Linked DNA regions of Homo sapiens: region 2 is linked to region 1. A link means that fine-mapping ties the variant in region 1 to the expression of a gene that starts in the linked region. Tissue or cell type: tibial artery. Region 1 holds a variant in brackets; the other region holds the start of a gene. All regions are shown on one strand. Distances are from middle to middle.

Evidence for each region. PIP is the estimated chance that this variant, and not a neighbour inherited with it, causes the effect.
Region 2: it holds the start of RNF217-AS1, and the variant in region 1 is fine-mapped to the expression of RNF217-AS1 in tibial artery (GTEx, PIP above 0.99). The same link has a PIP of 0.9 or more in aorta.

What each region holds. Positions count from the first base shown.
Region 1 is chr6:125,098,485-125,106,591 of GRCh38, forward strand. No RefSeq gene overlaps it. Among named protein-coding and RNA genes, the nearest start is that of TPD52L1, 51 kb to the right of the region's middle. RefSeq lists a silencer at 6,922-7,155. The variant C/T (reference allele first, on the strand shown) is at 4,502.
Region 2 is chr6:124,958,673-124,966,774 of GRCh38, forward strand. RNF217-AS1 (RNF217 antisense RNA 1) reads right to left here and starts at 4,355. Exons shown (of 7, transcript NR_026876.1): 1 at 4,151-4,355. It overlaps RNF217 (ring finger protein 217), which reads left to right and starts at 3,765. Exons shown (of 6, transcript NM_001286398.3): 1 at 3,765-4,754. The coding sequence starts at 3,873.

The DNA.
Region 1 (8,107 bases):
GGAGAGGTGTGGGGAAAGGTGAGAGGTGGAGGTGAAACCTGGATAGCACGTTCCAAGTTAACCTCTCCAGTCCTTGCTCACTGTTGAGACATTGGGATCCCCCCCAACCCCCGACATTAAACAGAACTCTTCCTTCCACCATGCTCTATTAATATAATCACCAACAGATTGGTTATTTATTTTTGCTTATATTATGCATGAGGCCCTCTAGCAAGAACGTGAATTCCATGAGGTCACGGATCATGTTCTATTCATTTTTGGGTCCCCTCCACCGTCTATGGTAACTGGCAGGTACATCATAGGCATTGAAACGTTTGAGGAACAAATTACAAAACTATAAAACAAAAAAGTTTTATAAGAGACGTGCCCAAGACGCCTCAACTTCAGAATGGTGAAGCCAGGGATTCCAACTGGGTCTCCCTTCTCCAGAGTTGTAAGTGCACTAGGTTAGAATCAGCGGAAGAGTGGGAAATGGGAAGAACACGAAGCTGGAAATGGGAAACCTTAGTTCCAGCCTTGGTTTTCATCCTCCAACTGGCATGCTAACTTGCCCTCTCTGGGCTTCCTAGGTCTCTTATTCCTTATATTGGAGGTGTTGTTATGGATAATTTCAAAACAAATCTTTATCTAGCGCCTACTATGCGTTCACATAGTCTGTTCACGTGTATGTAATCCTTACAACCCCTCTGTGGTGTTATTAGTATCCTCGTTTTATAAACAATGTGGGAAAGAAAACAACAAAGCTAAGCCCAGCTAAACTAAAAAATAAAAAATAAAAAATACAGTTCAATGGTTTGTTTGAGGTCACATAGCAAAGGCTCAACTCAAACTCAGGTCTCCTGCTTGCCAGTCTGCGGTTCCTGCCATGGGGAAATTCTGTTATCTTTGAAGAAAATAATAAGTAAGGGAAGAGAGAGATGCCCTTTCACAACTGCAAAATTCTCTCCTCCCCAGTTTCCAGCTCCCATCATCAACAAAGAAAACCACGAAAACAAAAACAAATCCGGATTGCCTTTGTCCACAGTATAGAGGGCGGGGGCGGGGGCGGGGGCGAGGGCGAAGGCGAGGGCGTCGGCGGGGCTGCAGCCTCCACGCAGAGACCACTGATGGCTCCGCGCCGCTCAGTTGATCCCTTCCCACTGCACGGAGCGGGAGACTAAAGGCCCACTGCCCATGGCTGCGAAAACCTTCCTTCGGGAACGCGGAGCTAGTGCACGGGGGCATGTTCTTCCCCCGCAGCCCTGGCAAGCAGAGGCCGGCGGCCTGTGGCGCGGGGCAGTTGTGCTGGCTGCCGGGCGGGGCTGCTCTGGGTCTGGGTGCACGGAGAGGAGCGCGGAGTGAAGCGCACGGTGCACACTGCGGGGCGCTGCTTGTCACCTCCCTGCCCCTCCCTCTGCCCTCCCCCGCTGTCCGGAGCACAGTCCCGGGAGGGCGGATGTCCCCTGGGAAGATGCGCGAGGAGAGCGACTGGGAGGCAGCTAGCAGCACCTGCGTGTGGGCAACACGACCCGAGGCTGTCTCCATTGCCTGCGTGCTGAAAGCATAAAAGCTTTTTTTTTTCTTTTTTTGAGGAAGTAAATGTGTAAATTAAATTACTTTGGTGGGGGTTAGAAAACAGTTTTCCTCAGTGTCATGGTGACATCTTCCATCTGCCAGTTCACTTTTCATAAACCTGCTGATACATTTTCTACATCTCATTAAAAAGGTAACCCAAAAGAAAAGTAACGGGGGGAGAAGGAGATGAAAGGGAGAGAGAAAGGAAAGACAAAACGAAGAGAAAGTTAAAAAAAATAGACTAGGAAAGAGGGCCCACCAGGAACCAGGAGGAGCCCTGGGGATGGGGTCGGGACGAAAGCTGGCAAGAATTTCGGCTGAGTTCCTTTAACAAGTAGAAACGTGCGGGGTTGTGTGCGATTTTCCTGGAAAATCCTCACAACCCTATGAGATAAACATTATTCCCATTTCAGAGATGAGGAAAGTGAAGTCAGGACAGAGTTGCATCATCAATCTGATTTGAATACCAAGGGCAAGTTTTTTCCCACTACATCAGGGTATCCTGATCCGTTTTAAACTATTAGAATCACCGTTGTTGCATTATTTATTAGCCTTGACAGAGACTGAATAACCTCCCCCATCACAGAGTCTGCAAGGACAGAGGTGTGATCTAAACCTGGGCCTGGGAGCCCTGAGCTATCAAGCTAGACTGCTTCTCAGAGCCCTTCTCTTGTTAACCAGGGACTCTGAGGCAGGGTACCCAAACTGTCCTTTGACATCTGCAACTCTAAAAGAGTAATTGGAAATTGGGGAATAATAACACAACAGATAGAAGTTTTTGTTCCCATCAAATGAGACAGTGTATATGAAAGTACATAGCATAATACCAGTTATTTTCTTTCTGACATTCAATTCATTGAAAGTTTATTCAACATTACTTATTCAGTTTATTAGTAGTAGTAGTAGTAGTAAGCATGTTTAGGGCCCCTCCTGTGTTATTAGACATACCCTGTATGTGGATCTTGGTGAAGGCTGGGCTCCAATCCTGGTCTTGTGGAGAGTACTAGGCAAAGATTTAGGACAAATGGATTCCTATCTTGAATTCTTACATTAATTTGCTCTGTGATATTGGCATAGCCACATACCTTCCCAGACTTTGGTCTAAAATCAAGGAGTGCAAGGGTAGTCTCTAAGATCTCTTTCAGCAATGAAATGTGGGTCCATGTAACCTATATTTAAAGTTAGTTCCAACTGTTCAGTTCTATTATTTCTGTAATCCAGACAGGCCCTGTCAAGCAGCTGTGCATCTGCATACTCCCATAGGCTGGGTCTCTACCTCCTCCTCCTCCTCCTCCTCCTCCTCCTCCTCCTCCTCCTAACTCCTACTTCTCCATCGTCCTCAGCCCCAGCATTTTCTCCTGCTAGATGCCATCCTGCCTGTACCATCCAGGGTGCATCACCATGGCCCCCTCTGTTAAGGACTCTTTGTAAATCACCACTGAGCAAGGCACTTGTATTAGTTTTCTAGGGTAGAAGTAGCAAAATACCACAAACTGGGTGGGTTACAACAACAAACTTAATTCTCTCATAGAGAGGCCTGAAGTCTGAAATCAAAGTGTCAGCAGCACTGTTTCCTTCTGGAGGCTCTGAAGGAGAATCTGTTTTTTGTCTCTCTCCTCGCTTCTGGTGGTTGCCAGCAATCCTTGGCATTCTTTGACTTGCTGTATCTTCACTTCACTTCAGTCATTGGATATAGGACCCAACCTTATCCAGTGTCATCTTTGGGGCAGAAATGTGTTCTCTCTAAATTCATATGTTGAAGTCCTAATCCCCACAGCCTCAGGCTGTGACTGTATTTGGAGATAGAATCTTGACACAGGGAACTAAGTAAGGTAGAATGAGGTCATACGGGTGGGCCCTAACCCAATATGACTGGCATCCTCATAAGAGGAGATTGGGACACAGGCATACACAGAGGAAAGTTCATGCTGAAGACATAAAGAAAAGATGGCCAACTGCAAGCCAAGGAGAGAGGCCTCAGAGGAAATCAACCCTGTTTACACCTTGATCTTAGACTTCTAGCCTCCAGAACTGTGAGAAAATAACTTTCTATTGTTTAAGTCCCTCCCACTCCAGGTCTGTGGTACCTTGTTATGACAGCCCTAACAAAGGAATACAGACCTTCACTTAAATACTACAATTACATCCACAAACACCCTATTTCAAATAAAGTCACATTCTGAGGTTCCAAGAGGACATTAACTTTTGGGAAGACACCATTCAACCTATTACAGCACTTTTCACAGTTTCCTTCAGGTCTTTGTGTTCCTTCAAGGCAGGGACAATTATCCCCAACAGGGCACAAGTCCTGGCCCTTAATATGTGCTCTACAAAGGGAGAAGGAAGAAAGGAAGTAAAAAGTAAAAGAAAAGAAAGAGAGTAATAACAGAAAAGAGAGAGGAAGGAAAAGGGAAAAAAAAGGAAGGAAAGCTGCATGCTTTCCTAGTTTCCTCGTTTCAATTACATCCTTCAAAACAAAATACTGTTCTTCTTGAGCAAAAGATTTCTTAAAGCGTCTTTGAATTTCTGTGTGTATGCAATTTACTTTGAAACATGCAAAGGAAAGAAATAAGGGAAACGTGATAATATCCTGTTGCCTCATTGCTGGCCCTGAAAAACACTTCCAAGGGGTTGCCCAATTAAATATAATACACTCAGTTAAATTTTAATTTCAGATAGACAAGCAGTAATTTTTAGTATAAGTATGTCCTAAATGTGATATATATAAGTGTGTGTGTACATATATGTGTGTGTGTATGTGTGTGTATATATATATACACACATATATATATATACACATGTACACTAGACATGATAGAAAGAACATAGACATTGGGCCCATACAAATTTAGGCTCCAGTTTTTACTACCTTTTAGCTCAGGGACCTGGGGCAAGTTACTTAATCTCTTTGTATGTCAGATTCTTCATCTATAAAATTATAATAGAC[C/T]TATGGGAAAGGGTTGTTGGGACTTTAAAATGTCTGGTATGTGCTGCTTCCGTAACTAGAACAGTGTCTAACACATAGTAATCAATGACTCAACAAATATTTTTGAAGGAATGAAAGAACACATTCCCTTCTTCCCTATATGGACTTCCCTGGAGGATTGGGACAGCCAACCCAACAATAGCAGGGGCCCTAGGACAGGCCACAGCACAGTCCAGGGAGCACCCCAGCCTTCCATGGTAGAAAACCCACTCCACATCCACTGTTCCTCGGAATAATCTGGTTTTAGGATGCAGGGGACATACAACCAATTTGATACAGGCAGAGTTTTCCTTCTAGAAAATGTGTGTGTTTTTATTACAGAACAAAGGCGACAACATCTTACACTAAAATTCAAAAGTCTGTAAACCTTAGAGAACCTATTTCCATATGTAATGCATTGAATTTAAAGGCACACTCCTATTTGTGAAGGTGATTCTAACTAATTTAAATGGACCTAAATAGTTTTTAAATAGCAATATAAGCAGATGCTATCTTATTAGAAAATCATTTGAGCAGCACATTTATTTCCTAGAGCTGGAATCAAATCGTTCTATCTCCTTCTACAGTATGCATTTTTATGTAATCAATTGGTAATAGTGAAAAATATCTTAAAAGTGCATTGTTTCTTGACAGAAGGCTATTTCTTTTCAGAAATAAAAATCATTGTGAAAGAAGATATTTATTCTTAATGCTACAACTGAAACTAGGGGTTTTGTTATTGACTTGCTTCCTAATCAAGAAACTTCCATCATATAAATAAGGTGGTCTGGGTAGTGAAATGAGCATTGATTCAGGAGTCGAAAAACCTGGTTTCTGTGCCTCCTCCTGGGTGCTGCAGCCTCGGACCAGGTGCTCAACCCTGGAGCCAAATTTCCTTCCCTTGACTATGAGGGGAACCAGCTCTCTCATATACTTATACCATATTATATAACCAATAATATGCAATAAAATCAAACTACAGCAATTATAATCCTCTTTTACAATTTTATAAAGTTAAATTTTGCTTTAACAACTATAAAATGGGAATAAGTGTACTTTGGATACCGTTCGTGTAGGAAGCCCAAAGTAGTATTCAATGAATGGAAACTCCCTTCCCCCTTCCCTCAAGCAAATCACTCTTAACCCAGAAAATGTTATTGACAACTGCTGGGTTATAATTGTGATTTTTTTCCCCCCCGCCCCCAATTAATATGCTTCCCATACTGGCCATTAATTCAACATTGAATGAACACATATTAGCTTGCCAACTTTGAATGTTGTTTTGCTCAGTTAGACATGATTTCATACCTTAAGACTTTTTAAGGCTTATATTTTTTAGCCTATCTACTATTTAAACTGGGTACAGGAAGTGCCAGTTTAAGGAGGACAGCCCCAAGAAATGGTCCAGGCATTTCATGAGGGAGATTGGATGATTTTCCCCTCAACCAGCGGCACAGAGGCCCTTTCAATGCCTAGAAATAGATCTCCTATTGAGCCTCTGTTTATCTCCTCTGACCATAAAAAGCAGCTGGCTCTGCAGGAAAGACTGGTGGCTGCAATTAACTCCAGGAGGCCAGAAGCCGAAATCCTGTGCAACACGAATAAAGGCTTCTCAAAGAACTTGTGGAGTCATGTTGCTAGCTCATTGCTAGAACCATTCAGTCTTCTGAGGAAGAAATCTGTGAGCTAAACACCAAACACATCACTGTAAAATTTCCTGTAACCACCAGCGGCACTCCAAATCATTCCATTATTCTCTGAGTTGCTTCACAGTGACTGGGTATTAAATCTGCTGTGTGGCTAAATGCTGATGGCATTTTGTTAAATGAAAAGCATTTTAAAGAGGATTGGTTGATCCAATTGTTCTCATATTCTATTACTTTGCATTCAAACTTAACTCAGTATTAGACTAATAGTAACTATGAAAATAAAAAGAAAGCAGAATCTGATTTTTTTAAGTCCACTGGAGGCAATAAGAAGTTTCTATTGGAACACTTCACATGTTGTTAAACAATTACCAGATTATTAGAAAACACTTTCAAATACCTCTTTGATCTTTGCTAAGAGCCCTGATGAACATTTTTCTTACTGCTTATATTCCCCACAGATAAAATACAAAGACCTGGAAAATAGCAATAATCTAATTATTAGGCATATGTCCAGGAACAGAAGTGAGAAGTAGTAAAGGCAATCAAATGTTCATCTGAAACCTATCCCAGATGAACAGTCCAACTTAACTTGGTGCTGTTATTCTTTTTTTTTTTTGAGATGGAATTTCACTCTTGTTGCCCGGGCTGGAGTGCAATGGCACGATCTCCCCTCACTGCAACCTCTGCCTCCCAGTTTCAAGCGATTCTCCTGCCTCAGCCTCCCAAGTAGCTGGGATTACAGGCATGTGCCACCATGCCCAGCTAATTTTGTATTTTTAGTAGAGACAGGGTTTTTCCATTTTGGTCAGGCTGGTCTTGAACTACCAACCTCAGGTGATCTGCCTGCCTCAGCCTCCCAAAGTGCTGGGATTACAGGCGTGAGCCACCGCGCCCGGCTGGTGCTGTTATTCTTAAACCAAAAAAAAAAAAAAGACTCCAAATCTTCAACCCAAAAATTTCTTTAAGGCTGAACAAATGTGTTTAAAGCTATAGGTAACCATAAGGTAACCAGAAATCTGAGGAAAGGTGTTGACTGATTACACTTGCTAGCAACTGATTGCCTCTATATGGCTGAAGTAAAAGGATGGAACTAGGAGGTATCAATACAGGGTGGTTGGGATAAGTATAACAATAAAGGTAAATATGGCTTTTTTTTTTTTTTTTTTTGAGACAGGGTCTCCCCCTGTAGCCCAGACTGGAGTCCAGTGATGCAATCATAGCTCACTGCAGCCTTGAATTCCTGGACCCAAGTAATCCTCTCTCCTCAGCCTCTCACGTAGCTGAGACTATAGGCATGCACCACCAACCCCAACTAATTTTTTTAGGTTTTGTAAAGACAGAGTCTTGCTATGTTGCTCAGAGTGGTCTCAAACTCGTGGTCTCCAGTGATTCTCCAGCTCCAGCCTCCCAAAGTGCTGGAATTACAGGTGTAAGCCACTATGCCTGGACCATAAGACAATTTTGTAGACATTTTAGGCAAAATAATTACATTAGCCTCCAATACACACACACACATACACACATATACACACACACATACACACACACACGCGTGCACACACACCCCAGACATAAGTCGTGTGTATGTGTATGTTCTAGAGCTTGCTTCTGTCGGTTTGTGAGAGTCGACTATGAGAGTCTCTTCTAGACTATGTTCAGTAACATCAAGTTGGCAGTTTGAAATTGGCAAAGATGAGAGTACACTTCTAAAACTGGCCAACTGTGCAAACCAGAGGGTTGCCTTTTGTTGTTGTTGTTTGTTTGTTAGTTTTGAGACAGAGTCTCTCTCTGTCACCCAGGCTGGAGTGCAGTGCTGTGATCATGGCTCACTGCAACCTCCGCCTCCTGGGTTCAAGCGATTCTTATAGCTCAGCCACCAGAGTGGCTGGGACCACAGGTGTGCACCACCACACCAGGCTAATTTTTGTATTTTTAGTAT
Region 2 (8,102 bases), 140 kb before region 1:
TATTATTAAGTCCACATATTTATGGCCAACTAATTTCCAACAAAGGTGCCAAGAATAAACATTGGGGAAAAGACATTCTCTTCAATAAATGATGCCGAGAAAACTGGAAATCCCTATGCATAAGAATGAAACTAGACACCTATCACTCACACAGTTGATCACAAAAATCAACTCAAAAGACTTTCTTTTATATAGACTTTCTTTCTCAAAAGAAGTCATACAAATGGCTAACAAGTTTATTTAAAAAATGCCCAGCATCATCAATCACCAGAGAAATGCAGATCAAAACCACAATGAGACATCATCTTACCACAGTTAGAATGACTATTATCAAAAAGACAAAAAATAACAAAAGGTGGCCAGGATGCATAGAAGAGGGAAATTTTATACACTCTTGATGGGAACATAAATATGTATAGTCATTATAGAAAATAGTCTGGAAGTTTCTCAAAAAACTAAAAATATAACTACCATATGATCCAGCAATCTCATTACTGGGTATTTATCCAGTAGCAGGAAAGGAAATCAGTAAATCAAAGTGACATCTGCACCCCTATATTTATTATAGCACTATTTACAAGAGGTTGATATGGAATCAACCTAAGTGTCTATCAACAGATGAATGGATAAAGAAAATATGGTATGTATATTCAATAAAATACTATTTAGCCATAAAAAATGAAATTTTGTCATTTACAGCAACATGGATGGCACTAGAGATCATTATGTTAAGTGAAATAAGGCAGGCACAGAAAGACAAATATCACATGTTCTTGATATATGGGAGTTTAAAAAGTTGATCTCATGGAAGTAGAAAGGAGAATGATAGTTCCCAGAGGCTGGAAACACAGGGGCAGATGAAGAGAAGTTGGTTATATGTATACAAACATATACTTAGATAGAAGGACTAAGTTCTAGTGTTCAATAGCACAGTAGGCTGACTATAGCTATATATTGTATATTTTAAAACAGCTAGAAGAGAATATTTGAAATGTTTCCAACACAAAGAAATGATAACTGTTCAAGGTGATGAATATCCTGTGTACCTTTATTTGATCATCACACATGGTATGCATATATCAAAATATCACATATATCCCACAAATATGTTCAAATATTATGCATTAATAAAAATGATTTAAAAAAATTGAAGGGAGCCAAAAAGAAGTCATGTTTTAATGCCAGGATAAGAAAGGCAATAATAGAAAAAACAGCATTCTAAAACTGACATAGTTTTCTGATATTGAAGTCTGGATTTTAGGGAAGGTACACAGTTCACTGCAGATTAGGACATTTTGAGGCTTTATGTTGGTAGGAGCAGGATATTAGTGATAGTACTTACGTTGTATCAACAGTTGTGTACAACCTGAGATGGAGCAGATGGTTTGAGTTTTGAGAATATTAAGCTTGTGGCAGATAAATGGAATTTTTGCTAAAATATTAAATATTGGTTAATAAAATATTTTCAACCAATCCTTCTTTAAATAATTAATCCCATCGAAACAATCATTACTGGTGCTTCATGCACTTCAGAGAAAATTCATTGTGGAACCACGATGTTAACTTTTCAATTTAATTCACTTCCATGCTGCTGGAGTCCCATGAGCACTAGATTGAATGCCAGGGGTGGTGGGTCAAGGATTCAGGCAAGTTTGGGCCAATTTGGAGGGTGGAAATAGGGAACCACATATTATTCTATTTTCACAAAGGCCCAATGAATTCTGTAGGGAAGAAGTCATGGCAAAATAAAGGGCTGCAGTTTTAAGCAGCAGAGATATGGGCGGCCATCATGAGTCCCAGCAGGGACTTCTAATGGGTTTGGTGTAGAGGACAGCCACTTCCAGTAAGCTGGAACCTAAGGGATAAGGAATAAAATGGTAAACACTGGAAGAACAAGTTCTCAGAATACGAGTGAAAAATGTGTGTGAGGAGGGGTTCCCAAAACTATAAGAGGACTTTGAGGGGTTTTATTCCAATAGACGCTGTGGGAATATACTTTTTGGCATCCATTATTGTTACTCTGGTCTTAGCCTGTTGTCACCTGGAAAATGCAGATTACTTTTATATCTCTGGAAAGAATAGTGGCTTGGTCATCAGATGGCACACTCAAAAGGCACACATAAGTAGGTTTCTTGTCTCTGTCTTTAAAACAATAAGCACTTAAAGTATCATTTGGAGAAAACAGCAGTTACCAGGAAATCACTTAGCTGAGATAAAAAAGAAAAGAATCCTCGAATAGCATTTAATCTTCAAAATAAGAATTTTCCATTCTTGGGTCAGACCGATAGATGACATGGCATTTAGACATCCAATTCATACCTTTGCTTGCAACTGAGCCTCAGACACACATATATGATGGAAATGTTCTTTGGCATTACACTGCTTTCTTAGTTTGCATCGCTAGTCACCTTTGTATCATTTGCATCTGATTTGGAAAATATTTTAGAACAACCCAATAACAACTTCGAGATTAAAAAATAAAATTCTACACACTTTACAGTTCCTTGCTATTACATGAATGTGTAAATTGAATTCCCTCTCAGGAGAAAAAAAACAAAACAAGGGCTGGCTTCCCAAAAATGTTTTCACTGGCTTTAGGGAACTAAAACACCAGTGTCTGGGTGAGTAATACTTCCTGTAAAATAAAGATAGATCAACACATAATTAAGTCCTGGCTCACATATAATTGTTGTTTTGGAAACAGTTTTGAGGATAAATATGGTTATGCTAATGAAACTGCCCATGATTTCCACTAATGATCCAGTTTATTAATTAGGTCAGGACATTTTTCCACCTTGTGCTATCCATTTTGGAATGCTGAAAAGGGTTAAAAAAAAAAACTTCTAAGAGAACACTGTAGGCGAAGAAAAAGAGAGAAATTTTAAATTAGTTATCAACTCTTCTAAGGATTCCAGTTGGAGGAGTAGATCGAAAGTGCTTTTTCGATTATTTATGGGTTTCGAAGATTCTTCCTACTCCACTAGGCAGAAAAACAGAGTTGTAATATACAGCATTTAGAATTCATAATCCTTAGCATTATTTCTCTGAACTCGACATCCTAAATAGCCAGCGTTTACTAATTCCAGAGCTGAGTGTAGTTTTGTAGGAAGTTCTACTGAATGCGGAGACCAAAGGGGAGCCTGCCTGCTCTGAGGGTTTTGTTGAGGCTGAGTGTGAACTCCGGGCGAGAAAGCGCATCTCAGCTCTTAGATCACACCCACTCAGGGTGTGCGTGTGTGTGTGCGCGGGTGCCTGCGCGCGTGTGTACGTGTGGGGAGGTGTGCGCCAAAGGGGTGGGGTGAGGGGCGGCGAGGAGGGCTGTAGGTGAAGCGCGGGGAGAGGGAGGTCGCCCGCTCCGGCCTCTCCCCCAGGGGCCCTGCGGCTGGCCAGCGCTCCGGCTGCACCTCCTGGTGCGCGCCGCGGCGGCGCCACAGGCCCCTCGACCCTTTGACCACCGCCCTCGGGCCGCGCGTCCGGCAGCCGGGACCGGTGATGGCGCGGGACTGACGGCCGTCTCCTCCCAGACCCCTCTGTCCCGCCTGGGGCTCGCTGGGGCTGCGGCGCCGCCCCGAGCTGCATGTGGGGCGGGCGCGCCCGAGCCCAGAGCGAGCGGCCCTCGGCGCCCCCGAGGCGGTGCCCCGCCGCGCCAGAGTACGAGGAGGAGCGGCGGGCCGGGCCAGGCTCCCCACGCGCCGCAGCCTCGGAGCACGGGCTCCCCGGAGGGGACTTGGGGCGTCCCAGCCCAGGAGGAAGGACCCGGAAGCAGAAGCGGAGCCGCGAGTCGAGCCGAGCCACTGCCCCCGCTGCCCGCGGGCGCCGGGTGGGGGTCCCGGCGGCTGGATGGGCAGCGGCGGCGCGGGCCGCGGGCGGCGATGGGCGAGGAGCAGAGCACGGTGAGCGGCGGCGGCGGGCCCCAGGAGTCGCAGACCCTGGCCAGTGGCACTGCGGGCCACCCTGAGCCCCCGAGGCCTCAGGGGGACAGCGCCCGGGCGCCCCCGCTGCGCGCCGCCTCCGCGGAGCCGAGCGGCGGTGGCTGCGGAAGCGACTGGGGCTGCGCGGACACCAGCGCCCCAGAGCCCGCGAGGAGCCTGGGGCCCCCGGGCTGGAGTAAGAGCCGAGCACCGGCGCAGCCTGCGGGACTGGCACTCACCGGGCCTCTCAATCCCCAGACCTTGCCACTGCAGTTGGAGCTGGAGGAGGAAGAGGAGGAAGCTGGGGATCGAAAAGAGGGAGGGGATGAACAGCAGGAGGCGCCCCCCGGCGAAGAGCTGGAGCCCAGGACCCGCGTGGGGGCCGCCGACGGACTGGTCCTGGACGTGCTGGGTCAGCGGCGCCCGTCCCTCGCCAAGAGACAAGTCTTCTGCTCCGTGTACTGCGTGGAGAGCGACCTGCCCGAGGCCCCCGCCTCGGAGCAGCTCTCGCCGCCCGCGTCGCCACCTGGGGCTCCGCCAGTGTTGAACCCTCCCAGCACCCGCTCTTCCTTCCCCAGCCCCCGACTGTCCCTCCCAACGGATTCCCTCTCCCCCGACGGCGGCAGCATCGAGCTGGAGTTCTACCTGGCGCCCGAGCCGTTCTCCATGCCCAGCCTGTTGGGAGCTCCACCCTACTCTGGCCTGGGCGGTGTAGGGGATCCCTATGTGCCCCTCATGGTGCTGATGTGCCGGGTGTGCCTGGAAGACAAGCCCATCAAGCCCCTGCCTTGCTGCAAGAAGGCCGTGTGCGAGGAGTGCCTCAAAGTCTACCTGAGCGCCCAGGTAACTTCACCCCCTTCTCTTCCCCATTTATCATTCCAAATCACTGGCGAGGAGGTCCTGCTCTCGATCTGATCTCCCTGCTCGCGCGAAGAGGTGACCGACACACTTACTGAGGATCTCTGTTAGTTTCTCACGTCTCAGTTGTTATTTAAGTGTATTATGACCTCACTGGTTTACTTAACTGGAATTTAACTTTGCTGTGAACTTCAGGCTATGGTTGGCATGTGTAGAAGGCACAAGATACAAGTTGTTGCCCTCCTCTTATTTCTTATACAGGATTGCAAGCACAAGCTTGCTCAAAGGAGGAGAGGAAGAGACTGCCTCATCGGCCTGGTATCCCAGAAACTAACAAGCAGTGGGCATAGAATAAATATTTATGGAGCTGGTGGAGAAAAGAATTGGAATAAATATTTCAGACCCATAATACATGAATTTGTAATTTTGCTTCATTTGTATATTCCAGGAAAGAGTGAATGTTTAAAAAAATGTATCCCTTGGCCTTTGCCTACTTTTCAGTTTCCTTTTTCCACAGTAAAGTTGAAGTACTTTTCTTTCACTGAGGTTTTAAGCCAGCACTCTTTAAGAGGGAAGCAAAACAGAAAGAGCAAAACAAAGCAAAGAGAGGCTAAGAGGTTTCTCAGAACAAGCACTGGTGAAACTTTCCTCCTCTGCTTTTATTTGAAAACTTGGTTTTTTTTCTTGGAAAGCTTGAGAGTGCACCAGACCAGCTTTCCTTCACTGACGGTGAATGCGTTCTTCCAGCAGTTTTCAATCTGTGATGTTTCTGCCAGTGTTTTGCACAATCCTGGATGCCCTTTGATCCTGTGTCCAATTGTCCTAGGCCTATTCATCTTTCAAAACCCTGTGTGTTCAGGTGCCAACTCTTCTGTGAAGCGTTGCCTCACCCTCCAAGTCACTGCTTATATACTTTCACAGTATCTTATATTATCTTACATGCACTGAAGTTGTTTCTTTCGTGTCTGCTTGTCTTGTTAGACTGTCTGGACAATGTCTTAGAGTCCCATATGTGGTAGCTTCATGTTGAGTCCCTTGCCCATCATAGTGTTTTTAATAACATTGGCTGGGACAAACTGAACAGGGCTCCGTACCATGTGATTCCTCTATGTTTTTTGGCTAACTCATGCTTGGGTCTAGACTGAAAGTGTGTACAGTCCCTAACTAAAAATGCAAACAAAGACTTAAAACGGTATGTTACATAAACAGTAAGTTGGCTAAAATAGTTGGGATTATTTAAAAGCCTCTGAGAGACTGTTGTTTCTTTCATGCTTTATCTACAGAGATTCTTAAAACAGGAGGAATGTCTGCTGCTGGTTGTGGTAGTTTCTGTATCATCATCCTCAAAACAGATTTCGCTGCCCTGCGATGGGATTCAGACATTTCCAAAATATAAGCCCGCCTCCAGGGAAGTCACTGTGAGAGCAGATGTGTACAAAAGAACAATACAAGGTAGCATGGGATGAGATGTCAATAGAGTAACAATTCCAGATAGCACTTCCTGTTAAATGCTGGATACACATTCCAGAAATTCAAGGGAGGTAGTCATTGTGGCTTGGGGTACTTTACCTAGCAGTTTGATTTCCTTATGGTGGGCCCTTTCCCCAAAGCAGTTTTCTTTTTCTTTATTAAACCTCATAAGTTAGTTTTAGGAAGTTTTAGTAATGGTAGTAGGGAGACAGAGGGACATAGTCAAGTGGTCATTGCAGTGTACAGTACAACCACTAAAAACTCCTCTGCAGTGACACAGTATCTGAAGCTTGTCTGCAGCATTTCTGATTGTATGTATGTGCCTGACCTTCTTCCAAAGTATTTGCTGGGACTTTCAATAAATAATAATACACATTATTGGCCGGGTGCGGTGGCTCACGCCTGTAATCCCAGCACTTTGGGAGGCTGAGGCAGGTGGATCACCTGAGATCGGGAGTTCAAGACCAGCCTGACCAACATGGTGAAACCCCGTCTCTACTAAAAATACAAAATTAGCTGGGCATGGTGGCGCATGCCTGTAATCCCAGCTACTTGGAAGGCTGAGGCAGAAGAATCACTTGAACCCAGGAGGCAGAGGTTGCAGTGAGCCAAGATCACATGATTGCACTCCAGCCTGGGCAACAGAGTGAGACTCCTCTCAAAAAAAAAGAAGAATATACATTATTTAAAATAATAAACAGCAACAAAAAGATGAGTCATAGATACCGGGCATGCTTTCACCTCAGGGCTTTTGTACTTGGTTTTCCCTGTTCCAGGAAGGTTCCCTCCATGGCCCTCTTATCTGCTCACTGCACTCCTTTTCAGGGCTATATTCAAATGTCATGCCCTGTGACTTTCACTGACCACCCTTTTAAAAATTGAGCCTCACCCCACGCTCTCTCTCTTTTTTCCTGCTTTTTATTTTCTCCATAGCACTAACATACTCTGTCTTACACTTAAGTAATTAAGTCAAGACAGAAGTTTTCACATTATTTGTACAGGTCTGTATCTTTAGCATCTACAGCGTTGTCTGGTATATAACAGATGGGCAACTAAAACCTACTGAATTTTTGAAAGGCCTGAGATTGCCCCAGAAACCAAGGCTAGGAAGTGGTGTTCTGCATTGGCACTAAATTCTATTCTGAGCTTCTTGATACTTAAGACAAAAGACAAAGGGCTTAAAGCGGACAAAAGTAACAGGTTTGCTAAGTTGGTTATTAAACTTAGAATTTAAGAGCTTAGATAAACTTTGAGCTTATACATAAAATAGCCTTTTTTAGTTGGTTAAAAATACAGGATTGTGGTTGTAATATTTTTGATCTGTGTCAATTCTATGGTCCCTCTACTCAAAGGTTGTGTTTCTCTGTCACTTAACCTCTCTATGCCTTAATTTCCTCATCAATGAAATGTAATTGCAGACAACCTGTAATAACCCACCAGTTCCAAAGCAAAACAAAGTCAAACTGCATGGTTATTTTGTTGCCCTACTGAACCACATCAAAAGGGCATAGTGAGTGCTTTCTTTCTCATCTTAAAAGGTCTCTTAGGTTTGACAGAAGCAAATGTGTCAAGCCTAAACTTTCAGGGTTCTTAAGACCTTTTGAAAAAAATGATGTATTGAGATAAAGAGTTATTAGTGACTTTTTTCCACCATTTCTTTTAGTTTGTGCCACATAGTGCATTATTTAACATCATTTAAGAAAATAAAAGAGTCCCTATTAAACATTTTATGCCAACATTAAATTGCATATTAAATGTGAGTTGGACTATTGCCTGGTTAACTGAATATTTTTGTAAAAGGAGATGCACAGTTCTTTGAAAGAAGATGTCAACTTGGAAGATAGGAATATGGATTTTTAGACA